Linked DNA regions of Homo sapiens: region 1 is linked to region 2. Evidence: fine-mapped expression QTL. Tissue or cell type: skeletal muscle. Region 2 holds a variant in brackets; the other region holds the start of a gene. All regions are shown on one strand. Distances are between the middles of the regions.

Region 1 (2,500 bases), 900 kb after region 2:
ATTTTCTGAGCACTGCTTTATTCCAGGAACTAGGTAACACACTACCTCTCATTTAATAGGTATAACATGTCTGATTGGGTATGATTACTTTCCGTTTTTTACTCATGCATAACTAAGGCTCAGGGAGGTTGCAAAACTTCACCAACATCTCAGTTAGTGGCAGAATCAAGCTGAAAACCCAAACTTGAAATCGCTGGGCTATATTGCCTCTTTTATTTTGTGCTGCTGAGGCTGTTTAGTGTCTGGGATGGAGCAGCTGCTCAATAAATAACTGATTACATGAAATGACCCCCACATGGCCAAGAAATATATTTGAAAAGTTATCAGGTGAAGGACTCCAGTATCAATGAAGGGGTTCCTTATTCATCTTCACATACTCATTCCACAAACAGTGATAGGGCATCTACAATCTGCAACAGACTCTGCCCTGCAGGTATGGAGATGACTTTTGGACTTGCCCAAAAGTACCTGGAGGACACAGCCCGTCCTTCCCCATCTCCCCTTGTCCAGCTAACCCCCTTCCTCTCTACACACCAGCCATGCTGCCTGTCACTCAAAAGCACTAAACTCTTTCTTGAGCCAGGCCTTTTGAACCTGATGTTATTTCTCCTATCCCTCATTCTGGTCATTCAAGTTTCTGCTGAATGTCACTTTTTCCTGAGTGGACTCCCCAACCTTAACTCTATTTTGCTTCCTTCAGAACACTTAACCCATTCATGCCAGAGGTTGCAATTTTTAGAACTGCAGACGTGAGAAAAATCAGACCTTGGCGATGACCTTGAGCAGTAGGATATAAATAACTCCCACATGCTTAGCGTTCCAATAATGGAACACTAGGCACAAATAACGTTAATTAATCACGATCTGAAACCACCTTGACTAATTATGGTCTTCTTTTCCCACTAGAATGGAAGCTCCCAGAGAGCGGCTCCTGGTCGGCCTCCTTTCCTACCACCTGCCCAGGGCCTGGAATTGAGTAGATGGCTAACAGTTAATGACTAAATGAAACTTAGTGAAGGAGAAAGACATGAAAACTGATCGTTATACAGGAGGCGACTGGCTACGTAGGAGGTGGGTGTGGAGAACCCGGACGACTTCCTGGAGGAGGCGGAAGAGGGCTCAGTAACCATGAGATTACCGAAAACTGGGAAAGTAAATATGGTTTGTATTTTCCGCAAGACAGCTCTCCGGGCCTGCGCTGGGCAGTAGATTCCCAGCTCGAGGGACCGATCTCCAGGGGAAAGCAAGGCCCACCTGGGCCCAGGCCCGCCCATCCCGCCCTCCTCGTAGGCACCGGCTTGGTCAGTCCTGGCCAACCAGCAAAAGAAGCTCCGCCTTCCGGGGCCGGAGGGCGGCCTGAGGCGCTCGCTGTCACCCGCCGGGGCCCAGCCCCGCCGCCTCCGCCGCCCGGGAAAAAGCCCACTCACTCCTCTTCCGCCATCTTCTCCCCCATCCTGCGGAGCTTCCAGGACCACCGAGTTCGGAGCCGCGGGGCTAGCAGGACCCGCTTTTGCTTCCGGCTTCCGCTGGAGGCGCGGGCGGGCGAGCGGGAGGCGGGGCCTCGGCCGCGCGAGGGCGGCCCTCTGTCCCTCCGTCTCAGTGGCCCGAGGGTGGGAGAAAGCGCGTGGGAGGATTGCTTCTTAGTCTCTCCCGGGGCTTTCGGGACGCTTGTCCGGCCTGGGCCACATGACCACCTGGGACCGAGAGATTCCGGCTTTTCCCCATCACAGGGCGGGGACGTTTTGGGGAAACTCCTCTGAGGTCACTGTGACTCACCCTGAGGGCAAGCAAGCACCCTCCACCCAGTGCCCTCGACTTCGCTGTGCTAAAAGAGTTTGAAAAAGGATGCCCAGCCTGCAGCCTAAGCGGAGAGACCCCAGGGGGACACTTCCCCACCCGAGCCTTAGTTTCCTTCGGCTGTGGAGAGGAATAACCGCCTGGACTTGGCAGGACTGTGCAGCATTCCATCTGTAAACATGTGTTGAGTTCAGACTATATGCCTAGCGTTAAAAAGGATGCTGATGATCTAGGGGTGGACCATTCATTAAGGGGTTCATTGATTCACCACATGCTTAGTAGATGCTTCTATGTGCCTAGCAGTGACCGGTGGGGTGGGGATGCAGGGAGGAACAAGGTGAGGTGAGAGGGGTAGGTGAGACCCCCATCGGGAGGACTGGGGCTGAGGACTTTGAACTTTATTGGCCGCTTCTGTTGCTACCTCCCTTCCTGATCCAAGGCACTCTATCTCATCTGGATAATTGCAACGGCTCCATTCAGGGTCTCTGACTCACCCCTGTTCCTTACGGACTTCCACACAGCAGCTTAACTCATCACTCCTCTGCTTAGACCCTCCAATGGCTTCCAATCTCCAGAGAAAAAAAAAACGTGGGGAATGTACAGGACTCAATCCTGCCCCCTTTTCCCCTCTGAAGTGTGTGGGAGGGGGGCATGGGGCTCTATATCTCCCCTCCCACACACTTTGACTTTCCACTATTGTCCC
Region 2 (2,755 bases):
AGAAAGGAGCGTTAGTAAGAAACTCCAAAGGAGCTGGTGTATTCCTAGAATTTTGATTTAATTGAGGTCAGAGTCATTTTACTCATCACTGCTGCACAGTCTTTAGGGTGATATGGAAAGATAATGTTTCTGTGGGTTTGGAGGCTATTTAAGGACAAGAAGTGGCCATGTACCAAAATTCCATGGACACTCCCTACACTTTAATCCCTCTCTGAACTCTTTGTGTCCTAAGTATTATCATTTGTCTTCCACTGCTCTATCTCCCATGTAATCCATCTCTGATAACAGCACCACTATCTCTCCAGTCATCCAGGACTCTAACTTTATTTTGAACCCTCTTTCTCCGTCACTGTCCATATTCAAGTGGCTGCCTGATTCTAAACCTCTAACACAGGCAGGCGCAGTGGCTCATGCCTGTAATCCTGGCACTTTGAGAGGCTGAGGCAGGCGGATAGTTTGAGACCAGCCTGGGCAACATGGCGAAACCCTGTCTCTACAAAAAATACAAAAATTAACCAGCATGGTGGTGGATGCCTGCAGTCCCAGCTACTTGGGAGGCTGAGGCAGGAGGATCTCTTGAGCCCAGGGGGTGGAGGCTGCAATGAGCTATGATCATGCCACTGCACTCTAGCCTGGGCGATAGAGTGAGACCATGTCTCAAAACAACAAAACAAAGCAAAACAAAAAAACAACCTCTAACATGCTGGTCTTCCCCTGTTAGCATGTAACAGCATCCCCAGGTCAGACACTCATCACCTCCTGCCAGAACTAAAAGCCACATCCAGAGGAGTTACAGGAGGCCTCTGCTGAGGGCTACAGGGGCAGCAACCTGCCCTGCCCCCTCCCTTCCCCCTCCCTTAGCATAGTACTCAGTTCTTTCCAAGGTCTCCAGGCTCTGGCCCCAACCCCCCACCTTTGGTTTCCACAGCATTTCCCAAGAGGTGAAATGCTGTGCTTAGGGTCCCACAGTAAATGACAGAGGGCAGGTCTTTTGGACGTAAATCCAGTTCTCTTTCCGCTCTCCTCCACTCTCAGCACACCAAAGGAGGTCCAGAGATTGGTGACTAAATTGATCACGTTCAGATCCCCCATCTGTGGAGTGAAGTTTTGTTTTTTTTTTAGAGACCGGGTCTCACTAGTTGCCCTGGCTGGAGTGCAATGGCATGATCATGGCTTACTGCAACCTCAACTTCCCAGGCTTAAACGATCCTCCCACCTCAACTTGCAAGGTAGTTTGGACTATAGGCACATGCCACCATGCCTGGCTAATTTTTAAATTTTTTTTGTAGAGATACTATCTTGCTATGTTGCCCATGCTGGTCTTCAACTCTTGGATTCAAACGATCCTCCCACATCAGCCTCCCAAAGTGCTGGGATTACAAGCGTGAGCCATAGTGCCCAGCCAAGGAGTGAAGCTGTGATTGGCCCCCACTTCTGAATGCTGAGGACCTCCTTGTCCAAGCACCTCTTCTCTTCTTTGACTTCTTTTCCAGGTGATCTCATCCAGGTCATGGCTTTCAATACCACCTGTGTGCTGGTGGCCTTCACACTGATATTTCTGTCCCCAGCCTCTCCCCTGAACTCCATTC[G/A]TGCATATATAGTTGCCTACTCGGCCCTTCCATTATTTCTGTCTAGTAGGCATCTCACACTTAACATGGTCCACACTGAACTCCCCACCTCCCTCTTCATCAAGAAGCAGATCACAGCTCCATCTTTGCAGTTGTATCTTGCAGATGACTACCATTAGAATTATCCCCAGGCTGGGTGTGGTGGCTCACACCCCATAATCCCAACACTTTGGAAGGAGGATCACTTGAGCTCAAGAGTTCGAGACCAGCCTGGGTAGCATATGGAGGCCCTGTCTCAAAATCAATCAATCAATCAATCAGGCCTGGTGTGGCGGCTCATGCCTGTAATCCTAGCACTTTGGGAGGCCGAGGCAGGCAGATCACTTGAGGTCAGGAGTTTGAAACCGGCCTGGCCAACATGGTGAAACCCCGTCTCTACTGAAAATATAAAAAATTAGCCGGGCATGGTGGCAGGTGCCTGTAATCCCAGCTACCCAGGCAGGATAATCGCTTGAACCCGGGAGGCAGAGGTTGCAGTGAGCCGAGGTCATGCCATTGCACTCCAGCCTGGGCAATAAGAGCGAAACTCCGTCTCAAAAATAAATAAATAAATAAAATAAAATAAATAAAAATAAGTAAATAAATAAATCATAAAAATAATAAAGGAATTATCCCTGACTCCTTCACTTCTCTCAACCCTCAACATCCAGTCCTGTTGGCTTGACCTCCAAAATATACCGAGAATCCAACTATTTCTCACCACGTCCACATCTTCTACCCTGTTCCAAGCCACCACCATCTCACGCTTGGACTATTATAGTAGACTCTTCTCTGGTCTCTCCACATCTACCCTCCCCTCTCCAGTTGATTCTGCACAAGCCAGAAAGGATTCTGGTAAAACCTGTCTGATGGTGTCCCTCATCCGGTCAAAGCTTTTTGAAAGCTTCTTATCGCATTCAGAGTCAATGCTAAATTTACAATAGCCTTCCATCTCCTGTGATCTTTCCTCCTTTATGCAATCTAGCTCCCACACCCTTTCCCTCCTTCAGGTCCTTCGAAGTTGCCTCTGCCACTCCCTCAAGCCCCCAGCTCTCTGCTTCAGGACAGATTCTGGACATATTTACTTGCTTTGTCTGTCTTCCCCGCTAGAACCTAAGTTCCCCGAAGCCCTCTGTGAAAGACATACA

Evidence for each region. PIP is the estimated chance that this variant, and not a neighbour inherited with it, causes the effect.
Region 1: SLC9A8 starts here. The variant in region 2 is fine-mapped to the expression of SLC9A8 in skeletal muscle (FUSION, PIP 0.95).

Annotation. Positions count from the first base shown.
Region 1 is chr20:49,811,876-49,814,375 of GRCh38, reverse strand. SLC9A8 (solute carrier family 9 member A8) reads right to left here and starts at 1,548. Exons shown (of 16, transcript NM_015266.3): 1 at 1,428-1,548. The coding sequence starts at 1,453. RefSeq lists a silencer at 1,300-1,579 and an enhancer at 1,730-1,869.
Region 2 is chr20:50,711,078-50,713,832 of GRCh38, reverse strand. No RefSeq gene overlaps it. Among named protein-coding and RNA genes, the nearest start is that of PARD6B, 19 kb to the left of the region's middle. RefSeq lists a cis regulatory region at 2,449-2,637. The variant G/A (reference allele first, on the strand shown) is at 1,590.